Regions from separate parts of the Homo sapiens genome. Here region 2 is linked to region 1. The links come from fine-mapping of genetic effects on gene expression. Tissue or cell type: whole blood. Region 1 holds a variant in brackets; the other region holds the start of a gene. All regions are shown on one strand. Distances are between the middles of the regions.

Region 1 (10,395 bases):
GACAACTTCCTCTACCTGATAAAGAGCATCTGTGAAAAACCCACAGCTGACATCATACTTAATGGTGAAAGTTCCTGACAGATCAAAATAAGACAAGGAAGTCCGCTCTTACCACTTTTATTCTGTATTGTACTGGAGATTCTAGCCAGGAAAATTAAGCAAGAAAGTGAAATAAAAGGCATCTAGATTGGAAAGAAAGAAGTGAAACTATCTATAGATTACATGATCTTGTATATAGAAAATATACAAGATCCAAGGCCGGGCGTGGTGGCTTATGCCTGTAATGCCAGCATTTGGGAGGCCAAAGTGGGCAGATCATTTGAGATCAGCAGTTTGAGACCAGCCTGGCAAACATGGTGAAACTCCGTCTCTACTAAAAATACAAAAAATTAGCTGGGCATGGTGGTGCACACCTGTAATCCCAGCTACTCAGAGTCTGAGGCAGGAGAATCCCTTGAAGCTGGTAGGCAGAGTTTGCAGTGAGCTGAGATCGTGCCACTGCACTCCAGCCTGGGTGACAGAGTCAGACTCTGTCTCAAACAAAACAAAACAAAAACAAAAAAAGAAAATATATAAGATCCTGTAAATCCTAAGGAACCCACTAAAAAATCAGAACTTTAATCGCCAGGGAAATGCAAATCAAAACCTCTGAAGAAAAAACACAAACTGTTTTTTTTCTTGGCTCTCACACCACAGTAACAATCACTACAGAAGTCTTCTGTGACCGGGCTGGGTGCGGTGGCTCACATCTGTAATCCCAGCACTTTGGGAGGCCAAGGTGGGTGGATCACGAGGTCAGGAGTTCAAGAACAGCCTGACCAACGTGGTGAAAACCTATCTCTACTAAAAACACAAAAAGAATAGCCAGGTGTGGTGGCAGGCACCTGTAATCCCAGCTACTGGGGAGGCTGAGGCAGGAGAAATGCTTGAACCAGGGAAGCAGAGGTTGCAGTGAGCAGAGATCACACCACTGAACTCCAGCCTGGGCAACAGAGTGAGACTTGGTCTCAAAAAAAAAAGAAAAGAAAAGGAAAAGAAAAAAGAAAAAAAAAAGAAGTCTTCTGTGACCAAATGTTGGGGGGAACTCCTGCCAACACCAAGCAAACAACCAATTCTCCAATGGACAATTCTGAATTGAGTGTCCTCCAATTCAATTCCAACACTATCTACCTGAAGATAGCATCAGATCCCACAAGTTGAGGGTTCAATCCCACAAGACTGCACCCCTACACACACCAGAACTTCTGACCGACTGGCTTCAAATTGGGGTTTCCATGATTCCCTCTTTTTTTTTTTTTTTTTTTTTTTTTTTTGAGACAGAGTCTCCTCTGCCACCCATGCTGGAGTGCAGTGGCAGAGATCTCAGCTCACTGCAAGCTCCGCCTCCCAGGTTCATGCCGTTCTCCTGCCTCAGCCTCCTGAGTAGCTGGGACTACAGGTGCATGCCACAACGCCCAGCTAATTTTTTGTATTTTTAGTAGAGATGGGGTTTCACTGTGTTAGCCAGAGATGGTTTCGATCTCCTGACCTCGTGATCCGTCCGCCTCGGCCTTCCAAAGTGCTGGGGTTACAGGCATGAGCCACCATGTCTGGCACAGCTCTCTCTTTAGTGAGAGTGGGGACTTCTGAGAGGAAAAGACCAGCAGGTGGGGGATGTGCCATATTTTATAGTCAGATTTGAGGATGTGGTGCCTGATTTACATAGGACTCACAGATTGGTTTGATCAAGAGTGATATTACATAGCATGCAGGGAAGGCTGGCTGCCTCACCCTAATCATATTATGCAAATGAACTTTCCCCTTGGCCTTCGCCATCTTGTCTGCTCTTTACTGTACACGTGGCTGACAAAGAGAAGGGAAGATGGAGCCACCATCTTGAACATGATTGGCACAACTGCCAACATCTATGTCTGCAGCTCGATTTTACAGGCTACTCTTCGTTAGAAAGGAAAATAATTTGGGGCTGCTTTTCATTAAAAGGAGAACCTTACCAAAGACTTCTGTACCCTTACTATCTGCCTAAGTAATTTCTTCTTAACTCCTGTATGACCTCCACATGGTCAGCTATCCGGAAGCTCCCTAAGCCCTGTCCTTTTGGCCTTTTATGGAGACTTAATTGGATAGGCATGACTCAAGCATGGACAAATGTGTAGAAAGGTGATTGGTCAAAAAGGGCACGATCTAATACTAATACCCTGAATGGGGAACCCCAGCAAGGCCCTTGTGTTCAGCAACTCCTTGGCCTCTCTGTGCAGCTTTCCTTCCTCCAGGGTATGGGCAGGAGTCCTACCGAAATGAAGGTGTCATCAACTACACTCAGACAAGGTATGTCAGAGAGTTTCTTTATGGCCAATTTCAATACAGAAAGGTAGGGGAAGATTCCTGCCTTGGTGAGAAAAAGAAGCAGGTGAAAGGAGAGCAGGAGAAGGTCAAACAGAGAGAGAGAGTTTTTTTTTTTTTTTTTGAGACGGATTCTTGCTCTGTTGCTCAGGCTAGAGTGCAGTGATCTCCGCTCACACTAACCTCCGCCTCCCAGGTTCAAGCGATTCTCCTGCTTCAGCCTCCTAACTGGGACTACAGGCGCCCGCCACCACACCTGGCTAATTTTTGTATTTGTAGTAAAGACGGGGTTTCACCATGTTGGCCAGGCTGGTCTTGAACTCCCGACCTCGTGATTCACCCACCTTGGCCTCCCAAAGAGCTGGGATTACAGGCATGAGCCACCACACCCAGCCAAGAGATTCTTTTTTCAATGAGGCCTGCTTCAGAGGATTGCAGCACTCCAGCATTCTAGCAAGAGCTATGGGAGCTGTGAACCAGGAACTGTGGACAAAATCTAGATGTATATATATATATATCACCAAATCACAATGAGGTGCTGCCTCATACCTGTTACGATGGCCACTATAGAAAACAAAAACAAAAAACACCAAAACCAGAAAATACGTGTGGCAAGAATGAGAGCGAATTGGAAACCCCGTGCACTGTTGGTGGGAATGTAAAATGGTACAGCTAATGTGGAAAACTGTGTGAAAGTTCCTCAAAATATTAAAAATAGAACTACCATATGATCCAGCAGTCCCACTTTTGGGTATTTATTTATTTATTTATTTATTTATTTATTTATTTATTTTTGAGACGGAGCTTCGCTCTTGTCACCCAGAATGGAGTACAATGGTGCGATCTTGGCTCACAGGAACCTCCGCCTCCTGGGTTCATGCGATTCTTGTGCCTTGGTCTCTCAAGCAGCTGGGACTACAGGGGTGTGCTATCACGTCCAGCTAATTTGTGTGTGTGTGTGTGTGTGTGTGTGTGTCTGTGTATGTTTTTTGAGACAGAGTCTCACTCTGTCGCCCAGGCTGGAGTGCAGTGGTGTGATCTTGGCTCATTACAACCTCCATCTTCCGGGTTCAAGTGATTCTCCTGCCTCAGCCTCCTGAGTAGCTGGGATTACAGGCATCTGCCACCATGCAGACTAATTTTTATATTTTTAGTAGAGACGGGGTTTCACCATGTTGGCCAAGCTGGTCTCAAACTCCTGACCTCAGGTCATCCACCCACCTCAGCCTCCCAAAGTGCTGGGATTACAGGCATGAGCCATGTGCCCGGCCTAATTTTTGTGTTTTCAGTAGAGACAGGGTTTCACCATGTCAGCCAGGCTGGTCTTGAACTCCTGACCTCAAGTGATCCACACACCTCAGCCTCCCAAAGTGCTGGGATTACAGGCATGAGCCACGTGCCCGGCCTAATTTTTGTGTTTTCAGTAGAGACAGGGTTTCACCATGTCAGCCAGGCTGGTCTTGAACTCCTGACCTCAAGTGATCCACCCACCTCGGCCTCCCAAAGTGCTGGAATTACAGGTGTGAGCCACTGCGCCTGGCCACTTCTGGGTATTTATCCAAAAGAATTGAAATCAGAATCTCAAAGAGATATCTGCATTCCCATGTTCATTTCAGTATTATTTACAATAATCAAGAGGTGTACACAACCTAAATGTCCACTAACAGATGAATGGATAAAGAAAATGTGAGGCCAAGGTGGGCGGATCACGAGGTCAGGAGATTGAGACCATCCTGGCTAACACGGTGAAACCCCATCTCTACTAAAAATACAAAAAATTAGCCAGGTGTGGTGGCGGGCGCCTGTAGTCCCAGCTACTCAGGAGGCTGAGGCAGGAGAATGGCGTGAACCCGGGAGGTGGAGCTTGCAGTGAGCTGAGATTGCGCCACTGCGCTCCAGCCTGGGTGATGGAGCAAGATTCCATCTCAAAAAAAAA[G/A]AAAGAAAGAAAGAAAGAAAATGTGGCACAGACATACAATGGAATATTATTCAGCTGTAAAAAGGAGGAAATCTTGTCATATGCTACAACACAGATGAACCCTGAAGACTGATACAGTTTCGATGTGTGTCTCTGCCCAAATCTCTTGTAGAAATGCAATCCCCAATGTTGGAGGTGGGGCCTGTGGGGAAGTGTTTGGATCACGGGGGCAGATCCCTCATAAATGGCTTGCGCCATCTCCTTAGCAATAAGTGAGCCCTTACTCTGAGTTCACACGAGATCTGACTCTTTAAAAGTTAGTGGCACCCCTCCTCACCCTCTCGCTGTCTTGCTCCTGTTTTCGCCATGACATGCCTGCTCCCCATTCGCCTTCTGCCATGATTTTAAGTTTCCTGGGGCCTCCCCAGAAGCCAAGCAGATGCCAGCACCATGCTTCCTGTACAGCCTGCAGAACCATGAGCCAATTAAACCTCTTTTCACCGTAAATTACCCAGTCTCCGGCATTTCTTTATAGCAAAGCAAGAATGGCTTAAGACAAAGACATTATACTAAGTGAAATAAACCAGTTATAGAAGGACAAAAACTGCATGATTCCACTCATACGAGGTATCTAAAGTAGTCAAACTCACCAAAACAAAAATTAGAAAGGTGATGTTCAGCAGCTGAGGGGAGGGGGAGAGGAGGAGTTGCTGTTTATTGGGTATCGAGTTTCAGTCATGCAAAATGAAAAATTTTAGAATCTGCTGCACTACGTTGTGATCGTAGTTTAAAGTACTGTACACTTAAAACTTGCTCGGGTCCAGGTGTGGTAGCTCATGCCTGTAATCCCAGCACGTTAGGAGGCCGAGGCGGGCGGATCACGAGGTCAGGAGATCGAGACCATCCTGGCCAACATGGCAAAACCCCGTCTCTACTAAAAAATAAATAAATAAAAATTAGCTGGGGATGGTTGCGTGGCATGGAGGCTGAGGCAGGAGAATTGCCGGAACCCGGGAGGCAGAGGCCACAGTGAGCCAAGATCGTGCCACTGCCCCCTAGCCTGGGCGACAGAGTAAGACTCCATCAAAAGCAAACAAACAAACAAAAATCAACAACAAAAACTTGCTAGGAGGGTACATCTCATGTTATATGTTTTATCACAATAAGAAAATAAAACTGGCCAGGCACAGTGGCTCACACCTGTAATCCCAGCACTTTGGGAGGCTGAGATGGAAGGATCTCTTGAGCCCAGGAGTACGAGACCATCCTGGGCAACACCGTGAAACCCCCGTCTCGACAAAAATAAACAAAATCAGCTGGGCATGGTGGTGCATGCATGTGGTCTCAGCTATTTGGGAGGCTGAAGAGAGAGAATTACTTGAGCCTGGGAGGTTGAGGCTGCAGTAAGCCAAGATCGCACCACTGTACTCCTGCCTGGGCAATAGAGATAGACACTGTCTAAAAAAAAAAAAAAAAAAAGGCCAAGGTCAGGTGAGGTGGCTCATGCCTGTAATCCTAGCACTTTGAGAGGCCAAGGTGGGTGGGTCACCTGAGGTCAGGAGATGGAGGCCAGCTTGGCCAACATGGTGAAACTCCATCTCTACTAAAAAAATACAAAAATGAGCTAGGCGTGGTGGCACGCACCTATAATCCCAGCTACTGAGGAGGCTGAGGCAGGAGAATTGCTTGAACATGGGGTGCGGAGGTTGCAGTGAGCCGACATCATGCCACTTCACTCCAGCCTGTGTGACAGAGCGAGACTCCATCTGAAAAACAAAAAACAAAAAACAAACTAATTAATGAAAACAGTAATGTTGCAAGATATAGGTCAATATGCAAAAAAAAAATCAATTATATTTCCATATAATTGCAATGGACAGGTCAGGCACGTTTGCTCACAGCTGTAATCCCAGCACTTTGGGAGGCCAAGGCGGGCAGATCACTTGAGGTCAGGAGTTCGAGACCAGCCTGGCCAACATGATGAAATCCCATCTCTACTAATAATACAAAAACAAACAAACAAAAAAATTAGCCAGGCATGGTGGTCGGCACCTGCAATCCCAACTACTAGAGAGGCTGAGGCAGGAGAATAGCTTGAATCTGAGAGGTGGAGGTTGTGGTGAGCCGAGAATGCACCATTGCACTCCAGCCTGGGCGACAAGAGTGACATTTCATCTCAAAAAAAAAAAAAAAAAAAAAAGCCGGGTGTGGTGGCTCATGCCTGTAATCCCAGAACTTTGGGAGGCTGAGGTGGGTGGATCACGAGGTCAGGAGATAGAGACCATCCTGGCCAACATGGTGAAACCCCGTCTCTACTAAAAATACAAAAAAATTAGCTGGGTGTGGTGGCGCATGCCTGTAATCCCAGCTACTCAGGAGGCTGAGGCAGGAGAATCGCTTGAACCAGGGAGTTGGAGGTTGCAATGAGCTGAGATCGTGCCACTGCACTCCAGCCTGGTGACAGAGCGAGACCCCGTCTCAAAAAAAAAAAAAAAAATGCAATGAACAATTTCTGAAAACGAAATTAAGAAAACAATTCCATTTACAATAGCACCCCCAAAATAAAATACTTAAGAATAAACTTAACAAAAGGAGTACAAAATGTATGCTCTGAAACCTTGAAATAATTGTTGAAACAAATCAAAGAAGATTTGATTTCTAAGTAAATGGAAAGATACCCCACATTCATGGATCAGAAGATTTAATATTGTTAAATTAATCTACCCAATCCCTATTGGAATTCCAGTGACTTCCTTGTAGAAATTGACAAATGGGTCCTAAAATTCATATGGAAACTCAGGGGACTCAGAATAGCCAAAACAATCTTGAAAAAGAAACAAGTTGAAGGCTCACACTTCCCAATTTCAAAACTTACTACAAAGCTACAGTAATCAAGACACTGTGATACTGTCATAGGGCTAGACCCATAGATCAATGATCTATAGAGTCCATGGCTGGATGTGGTGGCTCACAGCTATAATCCCAGCACTTTGGGAGGCTGAGGTGGGTGGATCACTTGAGGTCAGGAGTTCGAGACCAGCCTGGCCAACATGGTGAAACCCCATCTCTACTAAAAATACAAAAATTAGCCAGGTGTGGAGGTGGGCACCTGTAGTCCCAGCTACATGGGAGGCTGAGGCAGGAGAATCACTTGAACCCTGAGTGACAGACTCTGCCTCAAAAAAAAAAAAATCTAGAGTCCAGAAATAAACCTATATGTCTGTGGTCAATTTATTTTAAATAAGGGTGCCAAGACAATTCAATGAGGGAAAGAATAGTCTTTAAATAAACAGTGCTATGTAACAGTGAACATGTACAAAACATACACATACAAAATAATGAACTTGACTGGGCATGGTTGCTCATGCCTGTAATCCCAGCACTTTGGGAGCCCGAGGTGGGTGGATCACTTGACCCCAGGAGTTTGAGACTAGCCTGAACAACATAGTGAAACTCCTGTCCCACAAAAAATACAAAAAGATAAGCAAGGCATGGTGGTGTGTGCCTGTAGTCCCAACTACTTAGGAGACTGAGGTGGGAGGATCACCTGAGCCCAAGAGTTCAAGGCTGCAGTGAGTTGTGATCACACCACTGCACTCCAGCCTGGGCAGCAGAGTAAGATCCTGTTTCAAAAAATAATAAATAAATAAGGAATGTGGAGCCCCTGCCTCATACCATATACAAAAATTAACTCAAAATAGGGTTGTTGTTGTTTTAAAACCAAATGTAAAAGCTAAAACTATAAAACTCTTAGAAGAAAACATAGGGACAAGTCTTTGTAGCTTCAAATTTGGCAGTGTCTTTTTTTTTTTTTTTTGAGACGGAGTCTTGCTCTGTTGCCCAGGCTGGAGTGCAGCAGCACAATCTCGGTTCACTGCAAGCTCGGCCTCCCAGGTTCACACCATTCTCCTGCCTCAGCCTCCCGAGTAGCTGGGACTACAGGCGCCCACCACCACACCCGGCTAATTTTTTGTGTATTTAGTAGAAACGGGGTTTCACCATGTTAGCCAGGATGTTCTCCATCTCCTGACGTTGTGATCCGGGTGCCTCGGCCTCCCAAAGTGCTGGGATTACAGGCATGAGCCACCGCACCCATCCCGGCAGTGTCTTCTTAGACATGTCAACAAAAAGGAAAGCAACAACAATGAAAACAGATACATTGGGCTTCATCAAAATGTGAAACTTATAACATACACTGGGGCCTGTCGGGGGGTCGGGGGAGCAAGAGCATTAGGATAAAGCTAATGTATTCAGGGCTTAATACATAAGTGATGGGTTGATAGGTGCAGCAAAGCACCATGGCACACGTTTACCTATGTAACAAACCTGTACATCCTGCACGTGTATCCCAGGATTTAAAATAAAATATAGAAAATACTCAACAATCATAATAAGTGTAAAAGAATTTTGGTCGGGCGCAGTGGCTCACGCCTGTAATCCCAGCACTTTGGGAGGCCAAGGCAGGTGGATCACGAGGTCAGGAGATCCAGACCATCCTGACTAACACGGCAAAACCCTGTCTCTACTAAAAATACAAAAATAAAATAAAATAAAATAAAAATAAATAAAAATAAAAATTAGCGGGGTGTGGTGGCTGGTGCCTGTAGTCCCAGCTACTCAGGAGGCTGAGGCAGGAGAATGGTGTGAACCCAGGAGGCGGAGCTTGCAGTGAGCCGAGATCGTGCCACTGCATTCCAGACTGGGGGACAGAGTGAGACTCTGTCTCAAAAAAAAAAAAAAAAAAAAGAATTTGAAACAAAAACGTGAAACTTCTGTGATTCAAAGAACACCGTCAAGAAAGTGAAAAAACGCCTGCCTGCCCGCCTTTCTTTCTCTCTCTCTCTCTCTTTCTTTCTTTCAACAGTCTCCCTCTGTTGCCGAGGCTGGACTATACTGCCGTGATCTCGGCTCGCTGCAACCTCCCTGCCTCAGGCTCCTGTGATTCTCCTGCCTCGGCCTGCCGAGTGCCTGGGATTGCAGGCATGCGCCGCCACGCCTGACTGGTTTTTGTATTTTTGGTGGAGACGGGGTTTCGCCGTGTTGGCCGGGCTGGTCTCCAGCTCCTGACCTTGAGTGATCTGCCCGTCTCAGCCTCCTGAGGTGCTGGGATTGCAGACGGAGTCTCGCTCACTCAATGCTCAATGTTGCCCAGGCTGGAGTGCAGTGGCGTGATCTCGGCTCGCTAAAACCTCCACCTCCCAGCCGCCTGCCTTGGCCTCCTAAAGTGCTAAGATTACAGCCTCTGCCCGGCCGCCACCCCGTCTGGGAAGTGAGGAGCGCTTCTGCCCGGCCGCCACCCCGTCTGTGCTGGGTGTGGTGGTGGGCGCCTGTAGTCCCAGCTTTTTGGAAGGCTGAGGCAGGAGAATCGCTTGAACCCAGGAGGCGGAGGTTGCTGTGAGCTGAGATTACACCACTGCACTCCAGCCTGGGCGACAGAGCAAGACTCCATCTTAAAAAAAAAAAAAGGCCGGGCACAGTGGCTCACGCCTCTAATCCCAGCACTTTGGGAGGACAAGGCAGGTGGATCACGAGGTCAGGAGATTGAGATCATCCTGGCTAACACGATGAAACCCCGTCTCTACTAAAAATACAAAAAATTAGCCGGGCCTGGTGGCAGGCACCTGTAGTACCAGCTACTTGGGAGGCTGAGGCAGGAGAATGACGTGAACCTGGGAGGCGGAGCTGGAAGTGAGCCAAGATCGTGCCACTGCACTCCAGCCTGGGCGACAAAGCGAAACTCCATCTCAGAAAAAAAAAAAAAAAAGTAAGAAAAGAAAAAAAGAAATGTAAAATAGTAAACAGAAATATCTCCCAGCTCTTAAAATTAGGCAATTCTGTTGGAAAGGACATAACTCTGAATAGAGGTTATAAGGAAGAGTTTGGATTTAACAGGAGAGTGCCAAGAAGCTCTTCCAGTTTACAAAGCAGGAGAGTATCATTAAGCCTGTGTTTTAGAAGATGACTGCATTCTGTGATTCTGAAATAGCTATATATAGGTTGCTCGTGAAATCTGTGCTGCTAGTCTTCTTTTTTTTTTTTTTGAGACAGAATCTTGCTCTGTCCCCCAAGCTGGAGTGCAGTGGCACGATCTCAGCTCACTGCAACCTCCGCTTCCTGGGTTCAAGCAATTCTCCTGTCTT
Region 2 (9,379 bases), 31 kb after region 1:
TTATTGTCTCATTTGAGCCTAGTAACTTTTTTGTTGTTGTTGAGATGGAGTCTTACTCTGTTGCCCAGGCTGGAGTGCAATGGCACAGTCTTGGCTCACTGCAACCTCTGCCTCCTGGGTTCAGGCGATTCTTCTGCCTCAGCCTCCCGAGTAGCTGGGACTACAGGCGCACACCACCATGCCCAGCTAATTTTTTTTTTTTTGAGACGGAGTTTCACTCTTGTTGCCCAGGCTGGAGTGCAATAGTGCCATCTCAGCTCACTGCAACCTCCGCCTCCCAGGTTCAAGCAATTCTCCTGCCTCAGCCTCCAGAGTAGTTGGGATTACAAGCATGCACCACCATGCCCGGGTAATTTTTTTTTTTTTTTTTTTTTGAGATGGAGTCTCGCTCTGTCACCCAGGCTGGAGTGTAGTGCCACGATCTCGGCTCACTGCAACCTCCGCCTCCTGGGTTCACACCATTCTCCTGCCTCAGCCTCCCAAGTAGCTGGGACTACAGGCGCCTGCCACCATGCCTGGCTAATTTTTTGTATTTTTAGTAGAGAGGGGGTTTCACCATGTTAGCCAGGATGGTCTCCATCTCCTGACCTCGTGATCTGCCCGCCTTGGCCTCCCAAAGTGCTGGGATTACAGGCGTGAGGCACTGCGCCCGGCCAGAGCCTCATAACTTTGTGAGGTGGGCAGTTCAAATCTTATTAATTCCCCATTTACCAATGACAAAATGAGGTTCAGAGAGATTAGCCCTCTTGGCCAAGATCGCACAGCCAGTCAGTGGCAGAGGTGGGACTTGAACCCGTCCCTTGCTGTTCCTTGAACTTCTCCACACGACAGGGCTGTCCCTCAGCCTACAGGTCACCCCTCTAGCCTTGCCTGTTGGCTCTTCCTAATCCTTTCAGGCCCAGCCCAGATACTTTTTAAACAAGAATGATGAGAGCTAACTTTTTTTAAAATGAGACGGTCTTGCTCTTTCACCCAGAGAAGACTGGGTGATAACAGTGGCTCAATCTTGGCTCACTGCAGCCTCTGCCTCCAGGGTTCAAGCTATTCTCATGCCTTAGCCTCCTCAGTAGCTGGGATTACAGGGGTGCATCACTACACCACGCTAATTTTTGTATTTTTAGTAGAGATGCGGTTTTACCATGTTGGCCAGGCTGGTCTCGAACTCCTGACCTCAGGTGATCCGCCAGCCTTGGCCTCCCAAAGTGCTGGGATTACAGGCGTGAGTCACTACGCATGGCTGAGAGCTAACGTTTATTAAGCACCCGCCACTTTCTAGATGAGGTCCTTACTGACTTCCTTGGGTTATTTTAGGTAATCATCCCCATACCTCTTACGTGGCAGGTATGACTGTTACAGAGGGAGAAACCGAGGCTGAGAAAGGCTAAGTAGCGGCCACACCTCACTCAGCAGGTGACAGGCTGCGGTCGCACTCATGACATAGTCTGACTCTAGAGCAGGCCTTTCCTGCCCGCTGTTGCTGCCTCCAGAAGCCTCTCTGAATCCAAGGGTGGGAACTATTCCTCCTTGCCCTCGAGCCTTCGCCAAAGCCAGGGCTTGGAGCGGCCGTGGGCTCCTCCTCCTTCCCCCAGGCTGGGCTCTTCAGGGGCGGAAACCTGCCTGGCTTGCCTGCCTTGCTCGACCCTGTAGCCCCTGGCACGAAGTAGGTGCCCGTGATGCCGGATTATTTCAGCAGGAGGGCAGGGGTGTTCCCGATGAAGCCAGGAGATCCAGGGAGGAGAAGCGACTCCCGGGGCCACCCATGCTTAGATCTCAGAGCCAGGCAAGAGCCAGGTCCCGGGGGTCCAGGAGCGCGCTCGGGGCTCCTCCTCGCCCGCGCCCCCCGCGCCCCTCGCGCCCCCCGCGCCCCCCGCGCCCCCTGCGCTCGCGTCTGCGGGGCCGGGAGGAAGGGGCGGCGCAGCCGGGCCGGGGCGGGCACCGAGGCCTGGCGGGCGGGCCTGGGGCGCTTTCGTGCCTGCCAGGGAAAGGCTGGCGAGGAGGCTGGGGGCGGACGCAGGGAGGAAAGAAGCAATGGGGTGCTCTTGCGTTTTGACATTTTAAAAAGAAGTTTAGATTCGCTTCCCGGAGCCGGGATGGCAGCCTGCGCTATGGTTGGGGACCAACGTGGTGCACGGGCAGGGGCCGGGGAGAGAGGCGGCCGCAGCGGGAGCCCGGGAGCGCAGGGCGGGCCTGGAAGAGCTCCGCCCCAAGGGGCGCGGCCACCCCGGAGGCGGGCGCACGGCTGCTTCTCATTCATTGTCTTGACAAGAGCATCTTCAGCGGGCGAGTCCCCGGCTCCTCCAGCTCCTTCCTCCTCTTCCTCCTCCTCCTCCACCTCCGGCTTTTGGGGGATCACTGTCCTCTCTCGGCAGCAGGTGAGGCTGGGCCTGGGAGGCGCGGGTGGGCCGGGGCGAGGGCCACCTGTGGGGCGGCGCGCGCGTGGGAGCCGCGGGCTGCGGGGGCGCGCGGCTGTCACCGCGACCCAGCCAGCGCCGGGGCCAGGTAGCGGGCGCAGCAGCCCGTGGGGGGACGCTGCTTGGAGTGGGGGCCGCCGGGGCCCCAGAGCGCTCTGCGGAGGCGAGGGCTAGGGACCACCGCGGCCAAGATGGAGGTGGGTGGCCGGGGGTCAGCACAGTGTCGAGGGCCCGACTCCCCACGGAATTGAGTCTCGGGGAGGGTGGGGACGAGGGCAGGGTGGGGTGAGCGGGGCAGCTGCCCTGGGCTTGGAGACAGGAAGGGGTTGAGAGCAAAACAAGAAAAGACCAAGTTCCCCTTTCCGTGGTTTCCGGGCCTGGTACCTGTGGTGGGGGAGGAGGCAGGGTGGGGCGATGGCTTCCTGTCCCCCACCTCTGGTCCGGGGCTCCCCTCTCTCCAGATACAGGCTGCTCCTCAAGACTGGGGCTCTTCACATACGCTCCTCACCGCTCTTTGGGCAGGCCGACCTAGCAGCCTCTTCGGGAGTCCTGGGGTGGCCGGGGGTGCTGGAGCCCCCAGTGAGTAGGCGAGGCTGAGGCTAGGGGCAGAGGCTCTGGGCATGGCACCCTCCAAGCGGCAGCACAGGCCCCTTCCCTGAGCAGGAAGGTGATGCGGTGGCACAAGGTCGCCCCTGGAGTTCCTTGCTCCCCACCCAGACACTGGGGGAAACCATCCTACCTGGACCTCAGAGCAGTCGGAGTGGCCTCTCCCTTCCTGTGTGCAGTTTACATGGGGGTGGAGATGGCTCTTAAGGGCACCTGCTTTTCTGAGCGGAGGCGAGAGGCAGAGGTATGGGGAGGAGGAGATACCTGGACCTGAGCCAGAGACCTGCTGGGGAAGCTATCCTGCCGCCTCACTCCCCTCAGGCAGCCCCCACGCCACTTCCTCCTGTGTCCAGCCCCATGCCAGCAGGCGAGGGAGGCCAGCTCCTGTCCCTGCCTTTAGGAAGCGCTGTGTGGGTGTGAGGGAGGTGGGCTCTGGACACGGTAACTAAGAGAGAACCCACCCTCGGAGCCATCTGGGCTGATGACGCCTGAGTCTGAACCATTAGGAAGGACGGGCTCTGCATCCATCAGCCAGTCAGTCAACAAACATGCAGTGGGGCAACACCACGCCAGGCTCTGTTGCAGAGGCTGAGGGTACAGATTGAGAGGGTGGCTCAGAGTGGCCTGGGGCCAGGGAGAAGGGGGCTTGCAGGTTAGAGGGAAGGAGAGGCTGGGGAAGGCAAGCAGGCATCAGCCACAGAGGGAAGAATAGGGAGCCCCTGGAGATGATGCTGGGACCTTAAAAGCCAGACTGAGGGGTGTCCTGGGGGAGGTGGGGACCACTGGAAGATCAGAGTTGACCTGAAGGGAGAAATGCTCTTATGCTGTGTGCCCCCAGAATGAGCCGGCAGGTGGTCCGCTCCAGCAAGTTCCGCCACGTGTTTGGACAGCCGGCCAAGGCCGACCAGTGCTATGAAGATGTGCGCGTCTCACAGACCACCTGGGACAGTGGCTTCTGTGCTGTCAACCCTAAGTTTGTGGCCCTGATCTGTGAGGCCAGCGGGGGAGGGGCCTTCCTGGTGCTGCCCCTGGGCAAGGTGAGCCCCTGGGGCCCTGGGGGGAGCAGCTCCTCCACCGGACCCATGGCTCTGTGCAGGTCCTGATTAGGTGACGGTCACCAGGCCTTCCAGGGCCTGTGTTGCCATCTGGAAAACTGAGCTGGGCCCCATGAGCCTTACACTTCCTCCAGCTCCTCTGTGCTGTGGCTGTGTGGAAACTGACGCTCAGAAGGAGCCAACACAAGATGGGTCACACCAGTGACCAGGACTACAGACAGTCCTGCAGACCCATGATCAGCCCTCCTGAGCCTCAGCCTGGGGCTTTCTCCCCATGGAAACACAGAGGGGGTTGGGATGGGGTCTGGGGGCCCTGGCAGCGTTCTCAGGGTTGGGAGGGACTCTGGCTCTGGGCCTGTCTGAGGACCTAGCAACTCTGTCCCCCAGCTCGCAGGCAGGGATGATGCAAGAGGTGCTCTCCCCCACCCGCAGCCCTGCCCTCCCCTGGAGCCTGCTGCCCCCTCCGCTGGCTGGCTGCTGCCCCGCACCCCCAGCACACTCCTGTGCTCTTTGGGGGGTAAGACAGGAAGGGGAGATGGGCCCCAAGTTGTTACCTTAAAAGGGCTGATGGAAGCAAAGAGAAGAGGAAGTGGTTGTCGGGGTGAGAGCTGGGCCCGCGCCCCACATGGCTGTCACACAGGAAGCCCTGCTGAAGCAGCTGTCCCCGGAAGAAGCCATTTCCAAACCTCTGCTCCTGCCTGGGGCCAGTTGGGACAGGCTCCCTGGCCCCTCTCCTTTTGGGAGGACCCACCCCTGCAGCCCCACCACTCACACTCGCTCTCTGGGGAGCTGCCTCCACCCCCCCAGCCCCCATACACCTGTCCTGGCTCCAGGGCCAGTTGTGCCCATGGAAGCCTCACTCGGGGAAGCTGGGGTGGGGGTGCCAACCCTAAGGGCAGAGACAGACTGAGACAGAGACCGGCGGGAACTCTGCCAGGGTCTTGCACGGCCCCCAACCTCTGCCATGCGTGGCCAGCCCTCCTGGGGTTTGCCCAGGCCATTTTGGGACTGGAACAAGAGAAGAACAACCCGCCCCCGTCCCCACCCCAGGCCCTGGTCCAGCTCCCAGGGACACCACAGCTTTCCTCTCTGGGCCTCTCTGAAGGAGGTGTGGGGAGGTTGGATTGGGTTTGGGAGGCAAAAGCACCTCCAAGGCCCTGCTGTGCCTTTAGACTGGACGTGTGGACAAGAATGCGCCCACGGTCTGTGGCCACACAGCCCCTGTGCTAGACATCGCCTGGTGCCCGCACAATGACAACGTCATTGCCAGTGGCTCCGAGGACTGCACAGTCATGGTGAGTGGTGGTGGGGACCCAGGGGCTGGGAGAGGGGCTCTAGGATGGGATCTGACATTTGGAGTCCTGAAGACTCACTGGCCCCTCCTCTGCAGGTGTGGGAGATCCCAGATGGGGGCCTGATGCTGCCCCTGCGGGAGCCCGTCGTCACCCTGGAGGGCCACACCAAGCGTGTGGGCATTGTGGCCTGGCACACCACAGCCCAGAACGTGCTGCTCAGTGCAGGTGCTGCGGGAGGAGGGGCTTGGGGGTGGCTCGTGGCCTGCAGTGGATGAGGGCAGGAGGCTCATGGCTTCTGACACTGTGGGGAACGTGCAGGTTGTGACAACGTGATCATGGTGTGGGACGTGGGCACTGGGGCGGCCATGCTGACACTGGGCCCAGAGGTGCACCCAGACACGATCTACAGTGTGGACTGGAGCCGAGATGGAGGCCTCATTTGTACCTCCTGCCGTGACAAGCGCGTGCGCATCATCGAGCCCCGCAAAGGCACTGTCGTAGCTGTGAGTCGCCATCTACCCTGACCTTTGACCCTACAGCCTTTATCCTTCTTATCCACCATCAGCCAGGCCCTTGGATGCTGCCCTCCCTCGCCTCCACCTGGGACTGGCCCCGTAGGGTATGTACGGGTGCCTGACCTACCACCTCCCTTTCCTTGCAGGAGAAGGACCGTCCCCACGAGGGGACCCGGCCCGTGCGTGCAGTGTTCGTGTCGGAGGGGAAGATCCTGACCACGGGCTTCAGCCGCATGAGTGAGCGGCAGGTGGCGCTGTGGGACACAGTGAGTGCTGGGGCAGGAAGCCGAGGGCCCCCAGGCTGGGAACCAAGACTGGAGGTTTCGTCCCTGCTCTGCCACTCACCTGGCAGGATGGCCATGGGCCTCAGTTTACCCAGGCGTGAGATGGTTGTTCCCACTGGTTGGTCGGGAGGGCCCTCACAGGTCACTGCCCAGGGAAGACCACCATCCCAGGGCCTGGGATGTTACCTCTCACCTGTGTCTACAGAAGCACCTGGAGGAGCCGCTGTCCCTGCAGGAGCTGGACACCAGCAGCGGTGTCCTGCTGCCCTTCTTTGACCCTGACACCAACATCGTCTACCTCTGTGGCAAGGTGGCCTCGTCGGGCGGGGTGGGGGTGGGAGGTGGGCAGGATGGGCCTGGAGAGGGCCAGGGCAGTGGGCATCCGCTGGTATTGACCCTCCCTCCACACCTGCCACCTACAGGGTGACAGCTCAATCCGGTACTTTGAGATCACTTCCGAGGCCCCTTTCCTGCACTATCTCTCCATGTTCAGTTCCAAGGAGTCCCAGCGGGGCATGGGCTACATGCCCAAACGTGGCCTGGAGGTGAACAAGTGTGAGATCGCCAGGTGACTGACCCCCGGCCCTGACCGCAGCATGCTCCTTGGGCAGTGGGCAGTCCCAAGCCCACCCAACCAGACTGTGGGCCCCGCTCACCTTCCCCTTCCCACAGGTTCTACAAGCTGCACGAGCGGAGGTGTGAGCCCATTGCCATGACAGTGCCTCGAAAGGTGATGCTCCCCCGCCCCACCCTGGGCTCCAGGCTGGGCACTGACTTTGCGGTCTTGTGGGGGGTGTCCTGGCATAAGCGCTTTCCTCACTATCCCTGGCCTTGCCCACAGTCGGACCTGTTCCAGGAGGACCTGTACCCACCCACCGCAGGGCCCGACCCTGCCCTCACGGCTGAGGAGTGGCTGGGGGGTCGGGATGCTGGGCCCCTCCTCATCTCCCTCAAGGATGGCTACGTACCCCCAAAGAGCCGGGAGCTGAGGGTCAACCGGGGCCTGGACACCGGGCGCAGGAGGGCAGCACCAGAGGCCAGTGGCACTCCCAGCTCGGTGAGAGGGCTGGGAAGCCAGGGAATAAAACTGGGAGGGTGGGGTGGGGCTGGTGTTTGGGGCACCTCAAACTCACAACATTGGGAATCTTTGTGGGTCCGGGAATGGTAATCCTGAGGCCTCAGAACACAGGTTTCAGATTGATAGGCCTGCAGGTCTCCAGGCAGCAACCAGCTGAGCGACTAAAGGGCCCAAGGCCAGGGCTCTAGGGATGGGGCTCAGCAGAGGCTGGGGTAAGGGGAGCCAGGGAGGAGCTGGGCCTAATGCAGCACCGGGTCCCCAGGATGCCGTGTCTCGGCTGGAGGAGGAGATGCGGAAGCTCCAGGCCACGGTGCAGGAGCTCCAGAAGCGCTTGGACAGGCTGGAGGAGACAGTCCAGGCCAAGTAGAGCCCCGCAGGGCCTCCAGCAGGGTCAGCCATTCACACCCATCCACTCACCTCCCATTCCCAGCCACATGGCAGAGAAAAAAATCATAATAAAATGGCTTTATTTTCTGGTACCTCCCAGACTCTGATGACTGGTCCCCTAGACACGCAGTTTGCTGAACCAACCAGCCCTAGAGCTTCCCCTCCACCGCGCTGAGGGGACTGACCCATGGCAGGGGATGTGGGATGCCCCCTGACTTACTACATCACAGGAACAGGGCCTTCGTGGGTAGAAACCAGCCATGCTGATGTGGGCCAGGAGGCTGCTCTCCGTTTCCGAGCTCCTTCTCAGAGCTGACACAGCTGAACTATTTAAGGCCCTAGCTTAGAACCTCAATAATTCCCAAATTTACCAAAAATCTGCCTTTCCTAGTCAACCAAAACATCACGTTGCACGTGACTCTGCTGGCACTGTTGCTTGTGAGGAAATGAACCAACCATCACTTACAGGGTAGGCATCTTTTAAACTGCAGGTCCAAAGATAAAAATAACGAGGGAGGCTGGGCATGGGGACTCACGTCTATAATCCCAGCACTGTGGGAGGCTGAGGCGGCAGGATCATTTGAGCCCAGGAGTTTGAGACCTGCCTGAGCAACACGGCGAGATACCGTCTCTACGAAAAATAAAATAAAAAATTAGCCAGGCATGGTGGTGGGCACCTATAGTTCCAGCTACTCAGGAGGCTGAGGCAGGAGGATCCCTTGAGCCCAGGAGGTCGAGGCTGCAATGAGCCATTGCACCACTGCACTGCAGCCTGGGTGACAGAGCAAGACACTGTCTCTAAAAAATATAAATAGGCCGGGTGTGGCAGCTCACGCCTGTAATCCCAGCACTTTAGGAGGCCGAGGTGGGTGAATCACCTGAGGTCAGAAGTTCGAGACCAGCCTGGCCAACATGGTGAAACCCCATCTCTACTAAAAATACAAAAATTAGCTGGGCATGGTGGCAGGCGCCTGTAATCTCAGCTACTCAGGAGGCTGAGGCAAGAGAATTGCTTGAATCCGGGAGGCAAAGGTTGCAGTGAGCCGAGATCATGCCATTGTACTCCAGCCTGGGGGACAGGAGTGAGACTTCGTCTCAAAAAAAAAAAAAAATATATATATATATATATATATATATTTTTTAAATGTATAAATACATCATATATATTTTAATATATAAATATATTATATATATTATATATTTTAATATATAAATATATTATATATAATATATTTTAATATATAAATATTATATATATTATATTTTAATATATAAATATTATATATATTAATTATATATTTTAATATATAATATATATTATATTATATAATAATAAATTATATATTATATTATATAGTAATAAGTTATATATTATACTATATAATAATATAGTATAATATATAATATATATTATAATATATATTATATTATATTATATTATATTATATATTATAATATAAATTATATATATTTTATATATATGTTTTATATATTATATATTTTAATATATGAAACAGGGGAACTTCTTCTAAGGAAAAGACAGAATTAAGGCAACAGGCTGATCCTAGTTTACCAGAGAAGAAACTGAGGCCGGGAGCAGGAGCCCAGCTCACTGAAGGGCAGATCCCAAGTCAGAGTCCAAGTCTCCCCACTTTTTTATTTATTTAATTTTTTCTGAGATGGAGTTTCATTCTTGTTGCCCAAATTGAGTACAATGGCACAATCTCGGCTCACCGCAACCTCTGCCT

Evidence for each region. PIP is the estimated chance that this variant, and not a neighbour inherited with it, causes the effect.
Region 2: CORO1A-AS1 starts here. The variant in region 1 is fine-mapped to the expression of CORO1A-AS1 in whole blood (TOPMed, PIP 0.95).

What each region holds. Positions count from the first base shown.
Region 1 is chr16:30,149,603-30,159,997 of GRCh38, forward strand. No RefSeq gene overlaps it. Among named protein-coding and RNA genes, the nearest start is that of CORO1A, 29 kb to the right of the region's middle. The variant G/A (reference allele first, on the strand shown) is at 4,277.
Region 2 is chr16:30,181,354-30,190,732 of GRCh38, forward strand. CORO1A-AS1 (CORO1A antisense RNA 1) reads right to left here and starts at 3,435. Exons shown (of 2, transcript NR_186359.1): 1 at 3,151-3,435; 2 at 2,040-2,418. It overlaps CORO1A (coronin 1A), which reads left to right and starts at 2,249. Exons shown (of 11, transcript NM_007074.4): 1 at 2,249-2,372; 2 at 3,856-4,054; 3 at 5,245-5,367; 4 at 5,463-5,592; 5 at 5,686-5,870; 6 at 6,029-6,148; 7 at 6,372-6,476; 8 at 6,589-6,734; 9 at 6,839-6,896; 10 at 7,008-7,223; 11 at 7,507-7,723. The coding sequence starts at 3,857. The coding sequence ends at 7,611. RefSeq lists enhancers at 2,530-3,070, 3,071-3,612, 3,613-4,152, 4,153-4,694, 4,582-4,731 and 5 more and silencers at 1,832-1,941, 2,082-2,541, 2,572-2,681, 4,052-4,151.